Linked DNA regions of Homo sapiens: regions 2 and 3 are each linked to region 1. The links come from fine-mapping of genetic effects on gene expression. A gene starts in region 1. Each other region holds a variant in brackets. All regions are shown on one strand. Distances are from middle to middle. Region 1 holds the start of ADCY3 (adenylate cyclase 3). Region 2 overlaps ADCY3 (adenylate cyclase 3). Region 3 has its middle 20 kb from the start of NCOA1.

Region 1 (8,182 bases):
GCTCCCCTGGGATGCTAATATTTTTATTCTTGATTTCTATCTTTTTTTTTCTGTTTTCTAAGTTTTAGGGTTTTATGTCTTAGCAATACTCAAAGGAGAACAATCATGAGTTTAGAAGTGATCTCCGAGTAGCCACGTGGTGGGGCACCCAGGCCCCGGCCCAGCCCTGTGGCCATACCTTCTCAGTCCTTTTCCCTGGAAGCTCCAGGAGCCTCAAAATAAGCTCCTTGTCCACCTGAGGAGATGGAGCTAGAGAGACCAGTCATCCTCAGACCTCAGACCTTAGAACCTGGGATGCCTGGGCATGGTGGCTCACGCCTGTAATCCCAGCACTTTGGGAGGCCGAGGCGGGCGGATTATGAGGTCAAGAGATCGAGACTATCCTGGCCAACATGGTGAAACCTTGTCTCTACTAAAAATACAAAAATTAGCCAGGCGTGGAGGCGCGTGCCTGTCATCGCAGCTACTCAGGAGGCTAAGGCAGAAGAATAGCTTGAACCTGGGAGGCGGAGGTTGCAGTGAGCTGAGATCGCGCCATTGCACTCCAGCCTGGCAACAAAGCAAGACTCCGTCTCAAAAAAAAAAAGAACCTGGGACTGGCTAATGCATGGCCTGAAGAGATATGACTGGTGTTTCCACCTAGTCAATGACCAGAAACTCACAGCCCCCTCTACAGAGATTTGGGGTGGGGACGGCAGGGCAGCACATAGCCACTGTCTCCAGGAGGTGGGGTGGGAAGCAAAGCTCCTGCTCTCAGGCAGCTCTCAGTGCTCCAAGGAACATACACAAATGAGCCCTGGGCTGGGGGTCAATGCCTGGGCTCCCGTCCTGTTTCTGCCACCAAAGTGCTGGGTGACAGTGAACCAGTTATCACTCATCTCTGTTTCCTCCTCTGTAAAATGGGTAGTCTGGGCTAGATGCCCTGCCAGGCCCTGCCTATGTTAACATCCTCTACCCATTTCTAGAACAAATCAGCAGGATGAGACATGAGTGGAGAAATCAGCAGAGGAGTGGAAGATTCTGTCTGTCCACCCTGGGCCTGCACATAGCACCTGGTCTCCAGGACCCAGGCACTGACCTCCATGGCTGCTAGAGGCTCACGTCAGTCAGCAAGGATTCTGGGCACGCCCTGCCTCTCCTGACACCCAGAAGGTCACCGCTTCAGAGCTGACTCTACCCCAGCCCCACTAACCACAGAACAGAGCTGGCGTGGGAGTTAAGACATCTCTACCAGACAGAGCACTGCAGGGGCAGGAAGTGGGGGAGCCTCTCTTGACCATCATTGGCACGAGGCTGGCAGGCTGGGCACCAAACCCAGATGCAGACATCTCCGCCTCATTCTCTGGTCACCGGCTTGCTGGCTCCCCAGGGACACACACTGCCTACTGTCCCTCAGGTCCCCTGGTCTCTGCAGCCCCTGAGGGCCTGGCACTTGGTGGGAACACAATACTATAATAGTTAAGCTGAGGCCGAAATTCCACCCCTTCCAGTAGAAAGCGTGCTCCAGGACCAGCAGAATGCGTGCTTTAGGACCAGGAGACCCTACGTCACAGTGGCCGGCATGACTGTCCCCATTTGCATCCCCACACCACACCTTCAGTGGGGAGACCACCATTCTCCACTTCATAGAACTCCCCAGGCACCCCGAGCTCCCGGAGGCAGGAAATATGACAACTGCGTCTTCCCTCTGTGCAGCCCTTCACGTATCCTAATGCGCTTTCCCCCACATCTCCTGCAATCCTGACAACAACCGTGTCATGCAGGCAGAGCGGACGTTATCCCCATTTGACAAAGGGGCACTGAGTCCACACAGCTAGTCAGTGCTGGGGAGAGATGGGAATCAAGGAGCCCTCTTCCCAAGGGAGGTCCTCCTTGCCAGGGTCACTGACAGGGAATGGCCAGGACAATGCTGCCTCAAGACCAGCCCTGGGTGGGCCTTCCTGTCACACACTTAGACTGGGCACAGGTGAAGAGTGGCCCTGAGGCCCAATGCCCTGACATCCTCCTTTCCCTGGGGCCAAGCACAGGCAGACTCCGGGTAATGGCACAGGGGTGAAAAGGCAGGGACTAGGGAGAGAGGTGAGAGCCCCGGAGGCCCCCAGGACACATTTTGACTCAAAGGCAAAGCAAACAGCAACTCCAACAGGTCCCAAGTTGGTGAGAGCTGCAGGAGAGGACGCTGTGGGGGGACAGTGGGCAGGACTCACCTCCCGCAGCAGCTGCATCCCCTTGAGCTCCTCCTGCTGCTGCTGGGCCACGGTGACCCCCAGGACCAACGTGTGCACCACACAGGAGACCACGGAGATGATCACGATGGGGCTGAGGCTGAGGGGCAGCGTGATGAAGAAGGAGAAGACAAAGAAGACCTGCCAGCCCACCGTGTCACTAGCCGCGTGGGCACGCGCGAAGTTCAGGCCCAGGTAGGAGAAGATCTGGGCGGTTATGAGCAGCCACAGCACGTAGGGCAGCACTCTGCGGGTGACCCGGTCCGGGAGCAGCCCCTTTTTGCAGAGCACGAAGAGGATGATGTCCAACACCAGTCCAATTCCAGCCACGGCGAGGGAAGCCAGCTTGTCGCTGGAGAAGACCACAGCACACATGACCACCACGTAGCAGTCAAAGAGGGCTGCAAAGACCACCAGCACCAGCAGGGTCTCGTGGCGCTGCCTTTTGAAGTAGGTCTGGTAGAGGTTCTCCAAGGACTCCGGCACGAAAGTCAGCCGCATGAAGCGAGGCAGGCACAGGCAGGAGCCCGAGTTCCGGACCGAGATTTCATGGGTCCGGCCCACCCCGCGGTCAGGGTCGGAGGGCAGGCTGACGGAGTACTCGGCTGAGTACTCGGCCGAGTATTCGGGCTCGGAGAAGCCCTGGTTCCTCGGCATACTGGCTGGTGTCTGCTACTGGCCCTAGAGAAGTGGACTGGGAACGGAGGAAGAGCTCTGGACTGGGCCTCCTCTCAGGGCTCTCTGAGACCGGGGGAGGGCTGAGGGCCTCTTCTTGTCTGGGGCGGAGGGGAGGCCACCTCCAGCAGGAACGCAGAGCGGGTTTCCAGAGCACAGGTAGCACTGATCAGCTAGAACTGAAAAGGGCATTGCTGAGTAGAAGCACCTCTTCCCTCCTACCTTGCGGTTTCCCCATGACCCGCCCTAACCCTCATAAAAGGATCTCTGCTGCAAGAGCCTCCCAACCCAGGGCCTTCCCTGCCACCCCCGGCTCACACCACCGCCCACCGCAGGCACACTTAGTCCTGTCCACGCCAGACACTCAATTTCCTGTCCCTGGCTTGTGGAAGGGCCTAGCCGCCTTTCCATCCCTGGTAACCGGTTTCTCTCTGTCATCTCTTCTTTCTCAGTCCCCGACTTCCTCACCTAAATTCCCTCCAGGCCCAGTCCTTAGAAGCTGTAAATAAAATGTGCCGGAAAGAAATCAGGACCATCGTGGGGGATTCCTGAGCCTTCCTTCTGTTTACTTCCTTTTTCCACCAAACCCTTGGAGGCTCGGGCTCCGATCCGGCCCCCTTCCCACGCTCGGGGCGCTGTCTTCCCCCCCGGAAGCCTGGCCCTGCCCCTGCGTTTACCTGTGCGGGAACTCGGCCACCGCGTGCTCCGGGACGGTCCCCGCGCGGGCTGGGGCGGGAGAGCTCGGCGCGCCCGAGGGCTGCTCCCCGCAGAGCCGCGCCGCCCCGGCAGCGCCTCGGGGCCCGGCCGGAGCGCGATCTCCCGCCGTCAGGCCCGGGATCCGACCGGGAGAGGCGCAGGGCTGCCCCTCAGCATCCGCGGGCGCCCGGCCGCAGGGGGAAGGAGGAGGCGGCGACGAGGGCTGGGAGATCCGTGGGCGCCGGCCCAGCGCGCCCGCCCTGGGGCTGAGGCTCAGGGGCAGGGGCCGTGCGGGGGCCGGCAGGCGCGGGCGGCGGCGAGCGCGGCTCTCCGGACCCCTCCCCTGCACCCGCGGCGGCGGCGGCTGCTAGGGGCGCGCGCGGGGCCCTCCCCGGCGGGAGCGCGGGCCGAGCCCGGGGAAGCCCGCCAGCATCCTCTCGCCCGCCCGCGCCGAGCCGAGCCAGCCGAGTCCGGGCTCGGCGTGCTGCACAGCTATTCCCCGCGCGGCGCCGGCGGCTCCGGGGCCACGCGCGCTCCAGGCCCCGGGAGGCGGGAGGCGGGAGGCGGGAGGCGGGCGGGGCGGCCCCTCCCTCGCCCCAGTCTCCGCCCTCTCGGCGGCGCGTTCCGGAGTGGGGCGGCGAGGGAGGCGCCGGGCGGCGGTCCCAGGACCCGCGCGGGCGAGAGGTGGAGGGGCCCGGGCGGCCCCCGATCCGGCGCGGGCGGCGGGCTGGGGCGATGGCTGCGTGGAAGCGCGGGCGCGGGCGCGGGCGTGGGCGGTGGGCGGTGGGCGGCAGGGCTGGGGCGAATCCACCCCTTCCAGCGAGGAGGCCCGGTCTAGGAGGATGGAAGCCCGGGACGCGCCCGCCCGCAGGTGAGGCGCGCTCGGGGCACCCCGCCGCCCCCTCCTCCGCCGCGGCTTCCTTCCGGGCCGGCAGAGGCCAGGGCTCAGGTTTGGGGACCGCTCCGCCGCGGGGCACGTGGGGCCTAAGTATCCCCGCCCACCCCGGGAGCCCAGACTCCGGAGCGCCGGGCCTGAGCTTTCCGCAGAGGGGCTCGGCAGCGGAGCCCTGTCCTGCTCCCAGGAGGCGGGTGGCGGTGGCCCGGTGGGCACTACACACGTGGAACTGGAAGAGTTCCTGAGACCCTGCTTCGAAGAGATTTCCCGTGCACATTCTACCCGTTTGAGATGTGTTTGAGTTCACAAACTGTCCCTTAAAGATGCGAATGCTCCTTTGAATAGTTAAACCTATCAGTCTCTTACACCATAGTATAAATTATTTTCCTTGCATTTGACAGAACACCGTGCTAAGATCAACTACAGGCTTTGGGAATTTAAATAAAGGAAGAGGAAAGAGATAGAATGTTTTGGGACAAAAGGGACAAAAGCATGTGTGGGAAGGTAAGTGCTGAGGACAGCCAGCAGCAATAGGGGGTCATCTCCCCTGGGGAGAGCTGAAGGAATGAACAGAGGGGAGAGAAACTTGGCTATCCAGACCCTGGATGGAGCTGCCACCCCATGCCCCTGAGAGTTATCCGCGGGCACCCCTTCCAGAACCTCAGGCATCACCTTGCATCCCTCGGGGAATGGATCCATTAGAGAATCGATCCTGCCACTGCTGTTTCTACCGTTCCCTCACACTCTGTCTGAAAAGGCGCCACCTTCAGCCCATACTTCGCAGGGCTTTGATTCCAAAGGTAGGGGACCTAACATCAGATATAGGAGTTTGGTAATTTAAATAAAGCAAAACTTTGCCCCATTGTTTTATTTTATTTCTATTTTTTATTTTTTCGAGACTGAGTCTCACTCTGTCACCCAGGCTGGAGTGCAGTGTTGTGATCTCAGCTCACTGCAACCTCCACCACCCAGGTTCACGCAATTCTCCTGCCTCAGCCTCCTGAATACCTGGGATTGCAGGCACACACCACCAAGCCCGGGGTAATTTTTGTATTTTTAGTAGATGGGGTTTCACTATGTTGGCTAGGCTGGTCTTGAACTCCTGACCTCAAGTGATCCGCCCACCTCAGCCTCCCAAAGTGCTGGGATTACAGGGATGAGCCACTGCTCTGGGCTGCCCCATTGTTTTAATTTGCTGGAGGTTTTTGGGTTTTGGGGGGGATTTTTTTTGGAGGGAGTTATTTGTGGTTTGTTTTTTGTTTTTGTTTTTTAAAAAGGAAGGCATTTATTTATTTATTTATGAGACAGAGTCTCACTCTGTCGCCCAGGCTGGAGTGCAGTGGCCATCTCAGCTCACTGCAACCTCCGCCTCCTGGGTTCAAGCAGTTCTCCTGCCTCAGCCTCCCAAGTAGCTGGGATTATAGGCACCTGCCACCATGCCTGGCTAAATTTTGTATTTTTAGTAGAGACAGGGTTTCATCATGTTGGCCAGGTTGGTCTCGAACTCCTGACCTCAAGTGATCTGCCTGCCTCAGCCTCCCAAAGTGTTGGGAATACAGGTGTGAGCCATCATGCCTGGACTTTGCTGGAGGTTTAAACATTTATTTTGAATTGTCACATGATGTTAAAGAGGACATGACTTTTATGTTTTACAAAGGGAGATGTAATGTACGGCAAGGCGCAGTGGCTCATGCCTGTAATCCCAGCTCTTTGGGAGGCCGAGGCAGGCAGATCACTTGAGGTCAGGAGTTCGAGACCAGCCTGGCTGACATGGCAAAACCCTGTCTCTACCAAAAAATACAAAAATTAGCCGAGCGTGGTGGCGGGTGCCTGAAGTCCCAGCTGCTCAGGAGACTGAGGTGGGAGAATCGCCTGACCCTAGGAGGCAGAGGTTGCAGTGAGCCAAGATCGTACCACTGCACTCCAGCCTGGGCAACAGAATGAGACCCTATCTCAAAAAAAAGTGGGGGTTGGGGGAGAGATGTGCTAATGTTTTTTAAAAGGCTGATAAATCTTGTGCTTGGTCCTGCTTTGGCACAAGAGACACCATGTTGCACCCTCTGTGGGTCCCTTCCCCTTCCTTGGCATACATGCCAGCCCTGTGATTCTCAGTGTGGCACCCTGTCCGCAAGGCCATGCCCAGCTCCTAAGCTGAGAGGGTTCTCTGCTGGGCCCTCTGCCACCACTCATGCCCCAGCCTCCCACCCCATGAAGGGAGAGAGTTCCACACAGAGGCACCCTCATATAAAAAGAACAACAACAAATTGATCCCTGCCTCTCCAGCCCCTGCCTGCTGGCTTCACTGTCCCACTCCCTGTTCTTCCACCATCCCTATCTCTCCTCTGTGGGCCCCTGTTCAGCGGGCACTGGGGAAACCAGAGGAGCCTTATAGTTCTGCCAAGGCACCATGTTGACTCATGAGGCAGACCCTCAGGTGTACACAGGTTACAGTTGGGGGTGACTTCTGGCTGAGGTGATCAGAGACAGGGCCTTTCAGGGCAAGAGGGAAGGATCTGATGGGCCTGAAAGGCAGGCGTTCCAGGTGGCTGGAGCCTCCCTGCAAAGGCCCAGCCGCAGGAAGAGCACAGCACATTCCCATCCCTGCTCCGCGTTCAGGGTTCTGGCACGGCCTTTCCCTGTGGATATGGGAAACGCAGTGGGACAGCAGTAGGCCCTTGCGAGGACTCCCGGGGAGCCAGAAGCATCTGGGTGAATATTCCTGGGCAAGAGAGCTGCTTGACATCCTGCCACAGAGGAGATCAGGGAAAATGCCGCGAGGGCCTCATCCATCTCACTCACAGTGGCTTCCCCAGTACCTGGCACCTAGTAGATACTCAAAAAATAGTCATTGAATGAATGGAAGTCTCCCTAAGAAGAAATGGTACTTTATAAAGGCACTGGCTGTCCTTGAAGGGACCAGCTGGCCTCATTCCCTGATACTGAGAATGTCCTGGTCCCAGGGCAATGAAAAATATCCACCCTCGAGTGAAAAGGGTGGGATTATGGGGGAGCTGTTTTCACTTTCCAAGCTATACATTTTGTATTGATGTAACCTGGACAACTGGCATGCTTCGCTTTTATAATCAAATGATACAGGAAATCTATACACACACAACTCAGGACCTCAAATGGCTGCATGGGTGACTTGCCCCTGTGGCTTGTCCTAAAAGGAAGACAGAATCATAGACTTAGGTCGAAGCTTGGAGGGCATCCTGACCCCCCCCAACCTCAATCCAGCATCTGCCTGGATGGGATGCCTCTTTGCTGAAGGCAACTTTTTGTTTGTGTGGTTCAAGACTAGAAATCATGGCTGAGAATTAATTGTTACTGGATAAACAAGAATGGTTTGGCCCCCCCGGGGAATGTGGTGGCTCTTGAATCCAGCAAACAATAGATCAGAGCAGAACTCTGTGTCCTGGGGGAAAACAGAAGTGGGAGAGAGAAGATCATTAGCTCCCCTGGTGCTGGGCACCAGGAGAGCCCTGTCTGGGGCCTGAAAGCAGAGCTTGAGACCCGGCCTGCATGCAGGTGGTTCAACTGGGGAAGTGATTCCAGGGAAACAGAGCAGGAGCCTGGGAAGCTCAAAACAGAGAAGGCAGGAAAGCCGGTAAATATGAGGGTTTGTGACGGAGTTGGCCACTGGTGTGGGAGGGGGCCTTGATCCTGCTGGGACCCTCTGATGAGCCTTGCA
Region 2 (8,182 bases), 52 kb before region 1:
AGGCCGGACGTGGTGGCTCATGCCTGTAATCCCAGCACTTTGGGAGGCCAAGGCAGGCGGATCACCAGAGGTCAGGAGTTCGAGACTAGCCTGTCTAACATGGTGAAACCCCGTCTCTACTAAAAATACAAGAAAAATTAGCTGGGAGTGGTGGTGGGCACCTGTAATCCCAGCTACTCGGGACGCTGAAGCAGGAGAATAGCTTGAACCCGGAGGCGGAAGCTGCAGTGAGCTGAGATCGCACCACTGCATTCCAACCTGGGCGACAGAGCAAGACTCTGTCTCAAAAAAACAAAACAAAACAAAAAAAGCACATTCCAGATTCCTCAAAAAATTAAACACAGAACTACCATATGACCTGGCAATTCCACTTTTGGGTATATATCCAAAAGAACTGAAAACAGGGACTCAAACAGATATCTGTACACCCGTGTTCACAGCAGCACCATTCCCAATAGCAAAGCCGCAGAAAACACCCAAATGTCCAAATGAACAAACAAAACGTGGTGTATACATGCAAGGAGATATCAGCCTTAACGGGAAAGAAATGCTGATCTGCCCGACGACACAGAAGAACCTTGAAGACATCATGCTAAGTGAAATAAGCCAGTCAAAAAGGGACAAATACATGATTCCGCTTATATAAAGGACCTAGTAGAGGCAAATTCAGAGACACAGTAGAACAGTGGTTACCAGAGTCTGGGAGAATGGGCAGTTATTGTTTAATGGGCACAGAGTTTCTCTTTGGGATGATGAAAAAGTTCTGGAAACGGACAGTGGTGATGGCTGCACGACATTGTGAATGCACTTAATGCCACTGAATTGTATACTTAATGATTAAAATGGTAAATTTTATACTATGTATATTTTACAGTAGCTATATATATAATTTTTAAAATGCAAATGTCCTTTGATCCAGCAATTCCACTTCTAGGTTTTTATTCTTCCACAGATACACTTGCACATATATACTATGATATAATAAATACCGCTACAAGGATATTTATTACAGCAATGTTTACAGTAGCAAAAGATTGGAAATAACCTAGAAATCTATGGAGAGCGCAACAAAATAAATTGTTACTTTTGTATAATGACTGAACACAGTCATTAAGAAGGTTGTGGCAATGCAATACAGACTTAGAATGCTCTCTAAGATAGTAGGTGAAAAGATCTAGTGCCTGTAATCCCAGCATTTTGGGAGGCCGAGGCGGGCAGATCACTTTAGGTAAGGAGTTCAAGACCAGCCTGGCCAACGTGGTGAAACCCCATCTCTACTAAAAATACACAAATTAGGCAGGCGTGGTGGTGCATGCCTATAGTCCCAGCTACTTGGGAGGCTGAGGTAGGAGAATCGCTTAAACCCAGGAGGCGGAAGTTGTGAGTCGAAATTGTACCACTGCACTCTAGCCTCAGCAACAGAGTGAGACTCTGTCTCAAAAAAAGAAAAATAGATTTAGTACAAAAGAGTGAATAGGCTATCATCTGTGTGTGTGTGTGTGTGTGTGTGTGTGTGTGTGTGTGTGTGTGTGAAAATTCTATAAACCTCTGAAAGGGTACATTAAAAAGATAATAGTGACTGGTGATTCATGGATGGGGGCTGGATGGCTAGGGGAAATGAAGGTGGGATGACTTACTTTTCCTAGTATACCCTTTTTCATACTTTTACGATTTTATACATGTATACGTTTGCTATAGAGGATCTTATAGCAGGCCAACCCTCCAGCCAAGAACAACTATAAAAGCTGGATAAAATACATAAAAAGAACCTAGCTCTTTAAAGGCAATGGAAACAACCAAAGCAGCCAGGATTTGAGGGGCCAAGATCTCAGGGGAAGGGAAACACATTTAAGTGAGCCCAATGCACTCCACCACTTTTCCCTTGCGACCAGGGTCGAGAGGCTGGAGAGAGAGCAATGATGAGGGCTTTCAAGGGGCTGGAGAAACAAGGACTGTGAGCAAGGATTCCAAGGCAGAGAGAGTAGAGGGGCTAAGACCCCGGGGAAAGAGAACCATACAACAGTGAGTCTGACTTTCTGTACACTATTACCCTTTAGTATTTGCATGGGGCAAGAGACCAAGAATCCAAGCAGAAAGTGAGACTAAGAGGCTAAGCTTTCAGTAGCCTCACATTGCTGAGGAGTTCAAGATACCATGAGAAAAGCACCAGCCTTTCAGGTAAGACCCCTGAGAAGCTATTTCCTATCTGCCCCTGCTCTAACCATCTGCCACAAGAAAAGTAAATCTTCCCTGGAGAGACACAACATTATTCAGAAGCACTACTATTTCCCATCCACAATATCTAGTATTTAATTTTTAAAAATGCCAGGTGGCTAAAGTGGGAGGATTGCTTGAGGCCAGGAGTTTGAGACCAGTTTGGGCAACACAGTGAGACTCCATCTCTACAAAAAACCATTTTTTTAATTAGCTGGGCATGGTGGCACACGCCTGCAGTCCTAGCTACTCAAAAGGCTGGGGTGGGAGTTTTGCTTGAGCCCAGGAACTCGAAGATGCATAAGCCACTGCACTCCAGCCTGAGTGACAAAGCAAGACCCTGTCTCAAAAAAAAAAAAAAAAAAAAAGAAAAAAAAAAAGGCCAAGATGCCAGGTTTCAACAACAAAAAAATGCATACCCATTGGTATTATTATGGTTGTCAGTCAGGAACTTTAAAATAAATGTTTAATATATTCTAAAAAATAGATGACAAAATAGGAATACATCGTTAGGGACCTAAGTCCAGTTTTTAAAATCAAATGGAAATTCTAGGACAGAAAAATATATAATTGAAATTGATGACTCAATAAAAGAGCTCAACCACTGATCTGACAAACCAGAGGAAGACAGGATTAGTAAACTGTAGATTAGGCCCATCAAAACATTGTCTGAAGTGCAAAAAGAAAAAAAGATTCAGAAAAAGAAGAGAGATACTTCTGGAACATGGTAAAAATGTCTAACAAGGATATTGAGTCCTAGAGGAAAGGAGCGAATGGGAAGAAGCAATAAAAAGATACTGGCTGAAAATGTTCAAAACTGACGAGAGATGTCAAACCAACATTCAAGAAGCTCTTTGAATACCAAGCAGAGCAACTGCAAAGAAAACTCCCAGGCGCAGCATCGTAAAACTGCTGAGAACCAAAAACAAAGAGCATTGGGAAAGCAACCACAGGAAAAAGTATGCATTAATGTAACGGGAGCAACAGTCTATCTGACAACTGGCATTTCAACAGGAATGAAGGAAGCGGGAAGGATAGTGAAATGCTTTTAAAGGGCTAGAAGTAAAAAATGGCAGCCTAGAATTATCTGCAAAAAGTCTTGGCATGATTTGAATGTGTCTGTTCAAAATTCAGGTGCTGCCAATGTAATACTATTAAGAGGTGGGGCCTTTAAGAGGGGATCAGGCCATGAGGGTTAAGGCTCTTTTAAAAGGGGCATCACATAACATTCAGCTAGCCCACCCTTCTGCCATGTATGGACACCAGAGCAAATGCTGGTGCCTTGATCTTGGACTTCCCGGCCTCTAGAACTGTAAGTAGTAAATTTCTGTTCTTTATAAATTACCCAGTTTCAGGTATTCTGTTGTAGCAGCACAAAACGGATGAAGACAGGTATCTTTCGAAAATGAAAGCAAAATAAGCACACTCCTAGGTAATCAGAAATGGAGAGAATTTGGTACCAAGAGATCAGCATAAAAGGTAATACTAAAGGGAATTCTTCAAGAAAATGAAGCAAAGAAATGGAGAAAGGAAGAGCAATTGAGAGGGCAAAACTGTGGGTAAATATAAGTAAAGAATATTAATAAGAATATTACATAAAATAATCACAATAAGGACTTGTGGGGTTTAAAATATGTTGAACTAAAACACATTATACTAATAAGCAGAAAGTGGGGGGCAGAGGCTTGTGAAATGAAGTTAAAAGGTTGTGAGGTCCTTGCATCATGACTAAAGAGGTAAGTACTAATTTGGGGCAGATGCAAATATGACATAGTTGACATTATTTCATTTTTTAAAGATTTTGACAGATTTGGCAGAATATACATTATTCTCAAGTGCATCAAAACTGACCACATGCTAGGCCAAAAATCAAGTTCCAAGAAATTTCAAAGACTTGAAATTAGAGTATGTTCTCTGACCAGAATAAAGATAAAAAACAACATAATTGTAAACAAATCCTCAAATGTTTAGAACTTAGTGCACTTCTACGTCGCCCATGGATCAAAGGCATTTCAATGAAAATTAGTAAATATTTTAAATTAAACGACACTGAAAATATGGCATATTAAAACTTGTGAGATAAAGCTCAAACAATGTAATGAGTGAGATCTGTAGCATTAAATGCATGTTTTAGGAAAGAAAGGCTGAAAATCGGTCATCTGAAGTTCTATTTTGGCTGGACCTGGGGGCTCACGCCTGTAATCCCAACACTTTGGGAGGCCGAGGTTTCGAGACCAGCCTGACCAACGTGGTGAAACCCTGTCTTTACTACAAATACAAAAAATTAGCCGGGCGTGTTCCCAGCTACTCGGAGGCTGAGGCAAGAGGATACCTTGAACTCAGGAGGTAGAGGTTGCAGTGAGCCTAGACTGCGCCACTGAACTCCAGCCTGGGTAACAGAGCAAGATTCAGTCTCCAAAAAACAACAATAAAGTTCCATTTTAAGAAGGTAAAAAAGGACACAAATTAAGCCCAAAGAAAAAAGAGGCAATGACAAAGTTTAACTTAGAGATAAGAGGCTGGGCGCGGTGGCTCACGCCTGTAATCCCAGCACTTTGGGAGACTGAGGCAGGCAGATCACAAGGTCAGGAGATGGAGACCATCCTGGCTAACATGGTGAAACCCCACCTCTACTAAAAAAAAAAAATACAAAAAAATTAGCCGGGCATGGTGGCAGGCACCTGTAGTCCCAGCTACTCGGGAGGCTGAGGCTGGAGAATGGCGTGAACCCGGGAGGCAGAGCTTGCAGTGAGCCTAGATCGCGCCACTGCACTCCAGCCTA[A/G]GTGACAGAGCCAGACTCCGTCTCAAAATAAATAAATAAATCAGAGATAAGAAATGTACAAAGAAAGCAACAAAGATTAACGGTGGTCTGCTGAACAGGCTAAAACAATAAGCCTTAGCAAGACTGATTAAGAAAAATTTTAAAAAGGCACAAATTATCTTCAGTAATGAAAAAAAGGAACATCATTACCCATTTCAGACAAAAGATAAAAAGAAAATATTAAGAATATTATGCCAAAATTTTGAAAATTTGAATGGACATGTTTCTGGGGGAAAAAAACCTCTCTAAAACCTATATAAAAGGAAATATAAAATCTGAACAACCTTATTATCTATGACGGAAACAGAATCTTCCCCTAAAGAACACTCCAGGCCTATAGGACTTCTTCATTAGGGCCTTTTTTATTTTTATTTTTTTATTTTTAAAGCCAGGATCTCACTTTGTTGCCCAAGCTGGAGTGCAGTGGCACAATCATGGCTCACTGCAGCCTCAACCTCCTGGGCTCAAGCGATCCTCCCACCTCAGCCTCCCAAGTAGCTGGGACTACAGGCATGCACCACCACACTCAGCTAATTTTTTAATTTTTTGTAGAGATGGGGTCTCGCTTTGTTGCTCAGGCTGGTCTTGAACTCCTGGACCCAAGTGATCCTCCTGTCTCAATCTCCCAAAGTGCTGATATTACAGGCATAGCCACCTGCCTGGCCACACCTACAGGCCAGCCACATGCCTGGCTGTGACTTCCAAATTTAAGGAATAACCCAAATTATCTTCAAACTATCAGGGGTTAGAAACTTCTCAAATTATTTAATGAGTTGGGCATAACCGTAATACCAAAACCTGTCAAGCACATGGAAAGGAAGGAAAATGGCAGGCAGGTTTCTCTCTTGAACAGAGACAGAAGACGTAAGGAGAATGTAGGTAAATGGAAACTCACAGGGGGCAGGATTCCATCCTTCCCAATGGTAACAGTGCTTTACCAATCCCAGTGGGATTCACATAGATTCCTTCTTACCCTTAAAACAATCTCTCAGCAGGTCACGGTGGCTCATGCCTGTAACCCCAGCACTTTGGGAAGCCGAGGCGGGTGGATCACCTGAGGTCAGGAGTTTTGAGACCAGCCTGGCCAACATGGTGAAACCCCGTCTCCACTAAAAATATAAAAAAAAAAAAAATTAGCCAGGTGTGGTGGCAGGTGCTTGTAATCCCAGCTACTTGGGAAGCTGAGGCAGGAGAATCGCTTGAACCCGGGAGACGGAGGTTGCAGTGAGCCGAGATTGTGCCACTGCACTCTAGCCTGGGTGACAAGACCAAGACTCCATGTCAAAAAAAAAAAAAAAAAAAGAAAGAAAAAAAAATCTCTCAAAAGTTTTACATATGGGGATACTGAAGTCCAAAGAGGGGCAGCAACGAGCCCAAGGCCACACTCAGGACAGAGCCTGGCTAGACAAATTCATCCCACTTGGAGAATTCTAGGCTCCGGCTGTGTGCCCAGCTAGGCCTGAGGATGCACCTTACCCCTCAACTCCCCCCACACCTCTGCACCTCCCTTCCACCTAACCTGGACCTCTCCATCCTGGGGCCAATGTCTGCTCTGCCACTGCAGCGTGGGCAGGCAATGCAGAGAAGCACCACTGTGGCCCGGGCAGGCTGCTAGCACCCTCAGGAGCCCTGGGGCACCCAGGGATGACCCTCTCTGCTGGTGCCCAGGCTCCCTGCACTGACCCTGCCCAGAGGAAGCATATGGCCCTGGGTGTTAGAAAGCAGGCCTCATGGCCCCGTGCACTCGGCCTACCTCTAAAAAAGCTCTATGGGTTACAAAGCACTTCTGGGTTTCTCATTTGACCCTCAAGAAACCTACAAGACAAATGTCAATACCTCCACTTTGCAGATGAGGAAAAGTGAGGCTCTGTAGGGTGGATAACTTATCTAAATTATCTACACGAGAACAGCCCCAGGGTGAAACACAGGGCCTTCCTCATCACACCAGGGGGCCTCCACAAGACGGTTCAGTGTGAGTTAAGATGTCCTAGATTGTACAATATGAGACAGACAAGATCAATGCAGACAGACATGCTGAAAACTGCGCAAATGTTATATAAAAAGAATGCTCGCCTAGCTAGGCGGTGACACATGCATTTTTTTTTTTTAAGTGCAGAGAACCCAGAGGGATGCCTCCACAGTGCGAGATCAGATACAAACAAGAAATGAGACAGTATTAAAAAAAAACAGAGTTGAAGAATGCCTTTCAAGGGGCTTTACAAGCCAGGAAAGGAGGATTCTTTAAATATACACAGGCCACAGCAGCTCCTCAATAACCACAGGTCACAGGGCCCAGGGGAAGGGGCGAATACGATGGGCTACTAAGCCTGGACCTTTGTCACAATGGCAGCCAGGGAAAATCCCCTCCTATGGGGGCCTTCTGTAAGGAATGAGATTGGTAAACGGGGAGGAAGAAAACATCCCCAGGACAGTGGAATCGGAGGCCCATCAGCTAAATGACTTAGTGTGTGCCTCGGAACAGCACTGTCTAGAGAATGTGAGTGAGGCCCGACGGTGGGGCTCCTGCAAGCCAAGGGCTCCGGAGTGGCCCCCGAAACCAAGGCCCTGTCCACCCGAGTGGCAGCATCTATGAAAACAGCAATTTCAGTGAATCAGGAGCACACAGAACCTCCTGAACACAGATGACATGGTTCCCAGAGCAGAGAATCATAGTGTCAACCTATTGAGTTTGTTTTTGAAGGGGAAATAACCCTATGGATAACAGGAAATTGGTGGGTGTAATTTCTGGAGACCTTCAAAAAGCATGTGAGATTAATCCAGGCCAAAACTATGTACAAGCCTGAGTGACATGAGAACTGGGAGGATGGTGCGGCCATGGAAGAGACTGGAGGAAAGCCAGGAAACCGAGGCAGGGACAGCGAGGCCTCTCTCCAGATGGAGAATGTAAACAAGGGCATCCCCGGGGAACAGGCTGGTTTTCCTTCTTCAGCAGTGACCTCAGATGGGAAGGTAAGGGAGGGAGGAGCTCCCCTGAGTGGGGGTGTGAGGCTGACACACTTCACCCAGCAGGGCCCTGAGGCCGCAGGATGGGTCAAGGCCCCACCCACGGCATGAGCAGGTGCACAGGGTGGATCTGCGGTTGGACCAGCAAGAGTGGTGGTGGAGGCGTGACGTGAAGGAATGCCC
Region 3 (8,182 bases), 450 kb before region 1:
TCAGTCCTAAGTCCTGAGAGAGGGAAAGCAACTTGCTTAGCTCACATTTCGCACCAGATGGCCCCAGGCCGGGGGCCCCCTCTTTCTTCAGTCATTCATTTTTTGGTTACTTTTGGAGGGAGATGTGGTGTGGCATCTCCAGGGAACTTACTCAAGAAGAGGTAGTTGGGAGAGAAGGTAGAAAATGGGTTATCTCTAGCTGAACTTCAGGTTCAACGTCATCTTTATTTTGATCTACAGAGTCCTAGTAGATGACAATACAGGTCTATACACAAGTGATAAATTGTGCAATCAACCAATTCATCCATTTCACAAATGGGAGTGATTGTTTGCTTTATGAAGTGAACTCTTACTTTATATGAGGAACCATCATGGGATTCCTTCAAACAGCAAATTCTCTTTTCATATATACAAAATGATTTATTTTACAAAGGGTGATTACCTGTGGCTTTCTCTCAGGAAAAGGAAGTGAGGTGTCTTCCATCACAATCATATGCCTTACAGTTTTGATACAATACTCAGTCCAGTTCATTGATTTCCATTCTTAAGTACATAAAAATCTTTTTTCTCCCTGGTTTATTTATAGTTGCATCCCATGGACAAATATCCTTTACTCAACATCTCCTTTTACTTTCTTACATTTATCTTGGCTTTCTTTTCCTTTTTACTGTTTACTCCTACACCATTTCCCCTTCCCATTTTAGTCAAATTTGCTTTTGCTCTTTTTGTGCACTTCATAGGTGGACATCCAAGGACATTGATGAATGAAGCTCCAGTCAAGGGTCTGTAGTGTTAAGGCAGCCACATCCAGGCTCTCATAGCACAGAAATACCAGTAACGCTATTGCTCAGGTGTGCTGCGTATGCTTATTCTACTATGCAAGTGATTATATGCCTCAGTTCCACAGTTGACCTTATATCCCAAATCAGCTCAATAAATTAGAATACTTGGCCCCTTTTTTTTAACTTTTATTTTAGGTTCAGGGGACATGTGCAGGTTTGTTATATAGGTAAACTTGTGTTATGGGGGTTTGTTAAATAGATTATTTTGTCACCCAGGTACTAAGCCTAGTACACAATAGTTATTTTTTCTGATCCTCTCTCTTCCCACCCTCCACCCTCAAGTAGGCACAAGTGTCTGTTGTTTCCCTCTTTATGTCCATGTGTTCTCATCATTTAGCTCCCACTTCTGAGTAAGAACATCTGCTATTTGGTTTCCTGTTCCTGCATTAGTTTGCTAAGGACAATGGCTTCCAGCTCCATCCATGTTCCCACAAAGGACATGATCTTGTTCTTTTTTATGGCTGCATAGTATTCCATGGGACGTTCATACACTGTTAGTGAGAGTGTAGCTCAACTGTTGTGGAAAGCAGTGTGGCAATTCCTCAAAGAGCTAAAAGCAGAACTACCATTCAACCCAGCAATCCCATTACTGGGTATATACCCAAAGGAATACAAATTATTCTACCATAAAGACACATGCATGTGTATGTTCATTACAGCACTATTCACAATAGCAAAGACATGGAATCAACCTAAATGCCCATCAATGACAGATTAGACTTGGCCTCTTATGGAAACATATTTTGTTGTTGTTGTTGTTGTTGTATATAATGGCCCTGACTCATTAACTCCTTAAGTCATTCCCCACGTTAGCTAGTTTTCTGTTATCTTCACTTTGATGTTAAGCCAACATCTTAGCATATTTAAAATTGAATTTCTCATACTCTTAGTCACATTATATTCCCTTTCCAGCTTCCTTACTGATGATGATGATGATGAACATTACTGCCTTTCACTTGTCCAGCACATTGCAGCTTTCCTGCACATCATCTTATTTGTGCCTTACAAAACCACTATGTGGTGAGCAGAGACACTTTACAAATGAGAAGAGTGGGCTAAGAGGGGTTAAGTCACTTGTTCAAAGTGGTAGGGACAGGTCTTCTCACTCTCGGTCCTATGCCTTAAGCTCAGAGGCACTACCCTGCTTCTCAAGCTAATAACCTCATCATTCTTTCTGTTCCTTTTTCTCTTGCACGTCCCATGTCTAACTCATCAAAAACTTATCCTAATTTTTTCTTCTACAATGTCTCATACTTGCCATTATCAAAGCAGTTAAACAACTGCCTTCTTGGTTCAGGCCCTCATCTGCTCATTTGTGAGTCACTGCAAGCATCTCCTGTTTTCCACATTTCTGTTCTTTTCTGCTCTAATTCATCCAAAAGGCATTGGTTAGAATATTGTTTATTTTGCATATTTTCTCTCTTTCATATCTTCTTCCCTTTTTTTGGAATGAAGGGTCCACATAGCAGTTGTTGGGACAGCTAGTAATTACCTTAGTAATTCCCATGCCCCACTTGAATAGCAAATATCTGTGGATAATTGGAAAAATAATGTGTGAAGATGCTGCTCTCATGGTATCACTCCCTTGTGGCCCATATCAGTTTTCTATTTCCTGTTCTGGAAAATGCAATCCCTGCAGGCCCTATATCCAAGACTGTCTATTAACTGAATTTGCAGACCCTGCCCTAAGTACCAAGGTGATGTAGTATTTATGCCATCTGTCTCAAATTCAAGGGTGCTTGTAGCCAGGGGACTACCTTCAGGGGAATAAGTGATGTATAGCTATAAATTTTGGTGATGCCAGAAGTAGCCCAAATAATATGAAAAGAAGCAACATGTACTGTGTACCTTTTTGATGCCACCAACAACTCTGGTATTTTACCTACTTTATCTAATTGAATGCCAACATCAACCCTGCAAAGCAGAAAAGCACAGGGGTGGGGTGCAGGGAATCCCAGCTAGGCCGACAAACCTAGGTTCAGCCCAGAGTTCTGACAGATCTATAAATGTCTGGAAGTCTGTTGGGAGGGAATCTATTTGCTTCAAGAATCAAGGAAGTCCAGAGAAAGAGCTCATTCTAAGGACAATGGGGCAAATTTGGGTGAAAGTGGGAGGGATGTCATGAATATTGTAAGCTGCTTGTCGCTAACATTATATGCTGTCTCTGCTCTGGGGATTTCTGCCTTAGTCTAGTGAGATTGAATAAAAGAATAGAAGCAAACAAACAAAGCCACTGCAATTGAAAGCTATTAAGGCAAGATAGTATGACCTGGAGCACCCTTGCTGGGCAGCGTACGTGGCAGAGCCATGGGGCTCTGGAAGGAACCGAGAGCACGTAGTGATCTGGGAGCATGAAGGCATTGGGAACCTGTAGCCTCAGCCCAAGCCTTGACCATCTGGCCACTCCAGGGTGCCAGAGGCAGAAAACAGGGAAATGGAGACGCTATTGGCTGCTTGGACAAATATAGTGCTTTAAGAATACATTTTAAAAAAGAAGAAGAGGCCAGGTGTGGTGGCTCATGCCTGTAATCCCAGCACTTTGGGAGGCCGAGGCGGGTGGATCATGAGGTCAGGAGATCGAGAACCATCCTGGCTAACACGGTGAAACCCCATCTCTACTAAAAATACAAAAAAAATTAGCCGGGTGTGGTGGCGGGCGCCTGTAGTCCCAGCTACTCAGGAGGCTGAGGCAGGAGAATGGCATGAACCCAGGAGGCGGAGCTTGCAGTGAGCCGAGATCGCGCCACTGCACTCCAGCCTGGGCGACAGAGCGAGACTCCTTCTCAAAATAATGATAATAATAATAATAAAATTTAAAAATATATATATATGAGAGAACCACTCTCTCCATGTTACATCCCCTTCCTCACTCTCAGAGTAATTTGGGAGGAAATCAGAGACCTATTTCAGAAATATTAGTGAGGAAGCAGGACCAGGGAAATGATAACTATTAAAAAAATTTTTTTTTTAAATAATAGAGACAGGTTCTTGTTATGTTGCCCAGCCTGGTCTTGAACTTCTGGACTCAAGCAATCCTCCTGCCTCAGCCTCCCAAGTAGCTGGGACTACAGATGCAGGCCACCACGCCCAGTTAATTTTTAAATTTTCTGTGGTGATGGGGGTCTCATTATGATGCCCAGGCTGGTCTTGAACTCCTGGGCTCAAGCAATCCTTCTGCCTCAGTCTGCAAAATTCTGAGATTACAGGCATGAACCACTGAGCCCAGCCACTATTATTATTTTTGTCGGCATAATTTCAGCTACTACCTATTCTCACATCTGGCTAGTATGGCCTGGGAAGCAGATCACAAGTATATTTTCATCTCCGTTATACATGACAAATTGAGCCTTGAGAAATTTAAGTAACTTGTCTAAATTAATACAATTACGAAGTGGCAGAGCTCGGGTTAGGATTCTGGTCTTTTTTATTTCAATGCCCATGTTCTTCCCACTACATTATTTATTCAACAAACATTTATCGAATGCCCACTATGAGTCACTCACAAGAGGCAATAAGGAACAAAAAAGCCCCTGCCCACATGAACCTTACATCCAGTGGCAGAGACAGCTGTTCACCAAAATTTGTAGGCTCCTCTTCTTCCTGCACTCATAGCTAGACTACATTTCCCAGCTTCCCTTGCAGTTAGGTCTCTCGCCAGTCGAACATGAGTGGAAATGAGTGGCACTTCTATGCCTGGCCCGTAAGAACCTCCCTCCCATGTTTCTGTATACTGAAAGGACTAGTGCAACCTTGGAAGTCAACTG[T/TG]GAAAATGGCAGAGCTGCCTCCACTGATGAGGAACACGTGACTTGGCCTGTTATATCATTAATAACTCAATTTATATTGTGGTTGAGACATAAATTTAGGAGAGTTTTTTTTTTTTTTTTGAGACGGAGTTTCGCTCTTGTTGCCCAGGCTGGAGTGCGATGGTGTGATCTTGGCGCACTGCAACCTCTGCCTCCCAGGTTCAAGGGATTCTCCCGCCTCAGCCTCCCTAGTAGCTGGGTTTACAGGCACGCTCCACCACGCCCAGCTAATTTTGTATTTTTAGTAGTGACGGGGTTTCTCCATGTTGGTCAGGCTGGTCTCAAACTCCAGACCTCAGGTGATCTGCCCGCCTCAGCCTCCCAAATTGCTGGGATTACAGGCATGAGCCACTGCGCCTGGCCAGGAGTTTATTTTTTATAGCATTAGGTACATCTTAATGAAAACATACTCCTAAAATAGATCAGTATACCAAAAAGACACATGTGCTTGTATGTACATTGCCACATTTCATACATAGTAAAGGCATGGGATCAACCTAGGGGCCCATCAATGGTGGGTTGGATAAAAAAAATATATATGGTAGAGATACATGATGGAATACTATGCAGCCATAAAAAAGAATGAGATCATGTCCTTTGCAGCAGCATAGATGGAGCTGGTGGCCATAATCTAAGCAAATTAATGCAAGAACAGAAAACCAAATACTGCATGTTCTCACTTACAAGTGGGAGCTAAACATTGAGCTCCCACAGACATAAACATGGGAGCAATAGACACTGCAGGCTACTAAAGGGGGAGGGGAGGCGGTGGGGCATGGATTGAAAAACTACCCATTGGGTACTATGCTCCTATCTGGGTTCCATATACCCACGTAACAAACCTGTACATGTACCCCCTCGTATCTAAAATAAAAGCTGAAATAAAAAAAATACTCCTACATGAATACCTGCCTAGAGTGATTTTCATTTTACCAGAAGAATTATAGATAAAGTTTCTTCCTTTTTAAACTAAACTACTCCCTTGAAAATCTAGTGGTGTTGGATGTCAAACAATCATCTGCTGACCCAAAGGGGCTCCTGCCAGCTGCATGGGCACCATGAAGGACTCATGTGAGAAGGCCCGCCTTGATCCAGCATGGCGTATGTGACTGAGGGGGTAATTCCATCTATGTCTGGTTTTGTCTTAACCATCCCACTTTGCAAAAACACTTGATGCCACACTCTGCAACTTGGCCTCTAATCGATTATAATAAAGGTGACATTTAACCTCTCTCTGCCACTCTTTTGCATTATTTTTCCATTTGTTCAGAACTCAGGTTGGGAAGATGGTTGTTACTTATTGGGCCCCCACAGAGACCTCAAAAAGTTATCATAATTTTTGGATAAATCAGTAGTCAAGGATTGTATTATAATTGTGTAAATAATTGTCACTGTTGAACCAAGTAGTATATTGTGATTATGTCTTGTTTCTAGTTTGATTTTTTTCTTGAAGTTAATGAATGCCATGTTTTTTGTTCTTAATTTATTTTTAGTTTTGTATGGACCTATACTATTTTTCCAACTACTATAATTGCTCTGTCTAAAATTTTTCAAGCAGTACACTAAGAGCACTAAGCCTAAAGGAAAAGCCAGGCAGGGTGTGGTGGCTCACACCTGTAATCACAGAACATTGGGAGGCTTAGGTGGGAGGATTGTTTGAGCCCAGCCTGGGCAACATAGTGAGTAGTGAGATCCCCATCTCTACAAAAAAATTCTAAAATTAGCTGGATGTGGTGGTGCATGACTATAGTCCCAGCTACTTGGAAGGCTGAAGCAGGAGGATAGCTTGAGCCAAGATGTTCAAGGCTGCAGGGAGCTATGATTATGTCACTGTATTATGTCACTGTACTCCAGCCTGGGCAACAGAGAAAGGCCATGCCAAAAAAAAAAAAAAAAAAGAAGAAGAAGAAAAGAAAAGCCAACAAAACTAAAAAACATTAATTTTAAGAACTTAAGATCATCAAATGATAAGATTAAGAGAGTAAAAAGGAAAACCACATAATGAGAGAAGACATATGTAATATATATATCCCAAGAAGGATTTTTGTCCAGAATATATAAAGAACCCCTACAGATCAATAAGAAAAAGAGACAATACAATCAGAAGGTGGGCAAAAGATTTTGACGGGCACCTCAAAAAAGAGCATTTCAAATGGCCCTTAAACATATGAAAAGATACTCCACTTCATGAGTCATCTGAGGAATCTAAATTAACATCACAATAAGATATTGCACACCTACCAGACTGGTTAAAATAAAGAATTGTCAAGGATGTGGAACAACTGGAATTTGTACGCACTGCTATTAAAAACATAAATCTGGGCCGGGCTCGGTGGCTCATGCCTGGTAATCCCAGCACTTTAGGAGGCTGAGGTGGGCAGATCACAAGGTCATGAGTTCAAGACCAGCCTGGCCAATATGGTGAAACCCCGTCTCTACTAAAAATACAAAAATTAGCTGGGCGTGGTGGCAGATGCTTGTAGTCTCAGCTACTCAGGAGGCTGAGGCAGGAGAATCGCTTGAACCCAGGAGGCCGAGATCGTGCCACTGCACTCCAGCACTTTGGGAGGCTGAGGCGGGTGGATCAGTTGAGGTCAGGAGTTCAAGACCAGCCTGGCCAACATGGCGAAACCCTGTCTCTACTAAAAATACAAAAAAAAAAAAAAAAAAAAGGAAAAAGAAAAATTAGCTGAGTGTGGTAGCTCGCACCTGTAGTCCCACCTACTCAGGCGGTTGAGGCAGGAGAATCGCTTGAACCCAGGAGACAGAGGTTGCAGTGAGCCGAGATCGTGCCACTGCACTCTAGCCTGGGCGACAGAGCGTGACTCTGTCTCAAAAATAATAATAATAATAAAATAAAAATAAATAAATAAAAACACAAACCTGTACAACCACTTTGAATAACTGTTAGTACTACCTATGAATGCTGAACCTATATAACACATACTCTTTGAACTAGCAGTTCCACTCCTTGATATATACCCAGGCTTGATATATATCCAGCAGAAATGAGCGGATATATTCACAAAAAAACATGTATGAGAATGTTCATAGCAGCACTATTAGTAATAGTCAAAAACAGGAAAGAATGTTCATTAACAGTGGAATGGATAAGCAGCACCGTACTCATAAAACAAAATACCACACAGCAAAGAGAAAAAACAAATTACTTGTAGCATCATGGGTGAATCTCATAAAACGTAATGTTGAATGAAAGAAACCAGGCACAAAAGAGCACAAAATATACAATTCAACTTATATAAAGCCCCAAACAAGGCAAAACTTACTGATGGAGATAGAAGTTAGTTTAGCAGTTACCTTTGTTGGGGGAAGTGGGGGCATCAGGGGATGTTCTGGGTTGCTGGTCAGATTTTATTTCTCAATCTGGGTTCTGATTACACATATTATTCACTTTGTGACAATTCTTTGAGCTCGGCACTTATGATCTGTGTATTTTTCTATATGTATTCTAAATTCTATACTATTTTATGCTGTAATCAGAAAAATTTAAATCACCAGATCATGCAGACATATTGA

What was found.
Region 2: its variant is fine-mapped to the expression of ADCY3 in whole blood (TOPMed, PIP above 0.99).
Region 3: its variant is fine-mapped to the expression of ADCY3 in whole blood (TOPMed, PIP 0.90).

The regions. Positions count from the first base shown.
Region 1 is chr2:24,916,106-24,924,287 of GRCh38, forward strand. It overlaps ADCY3 (adenylate cyclase 3), which reads right to left and starts at 4,132. Exons shown (of 22, transcript NM_004036.5): 1 at 3,578-4,132; 2 at 2,208-3,079. The coding sequence starts at 2,882. It overlaps LOC124907742 (a long non-coding RNA gene), which reads left to right and starts at 4,239. Exons shown (of 2, transcript XR_007086246.1): 1 at 4,239-4,467; 2 at 4,893-5,353. RefSeq lists an enhancer at 865-1,114 and silencers at 3,517-4,246, 4,277-4,336, 4,377-4,586, 4,597-4,686.
Region 2 is chr2:24,864,004-24,872,185 of GRCh38, forward strand. The region is part of intron 3 of ADCY3 (adenylate cyclase 3); the gene reads right to left. Among named protein-coding and RNA genes, the nearest start is that of ADCY3, 52 kb to the right of the region's middle. The variant A/G (reference allele first, on the strand shown) is at 4,997.
Region 3 is chr2:24,467,374-24,475,555 of GRCh38, forward strand. No RefSeq gene overlaps it. Among named protein-coding and RNA genes, the nearest start is that of NCOA1, 20 kb to the right of the region's middle. The variant T/TG (reference allele first, on the strand shown) is at 4,607.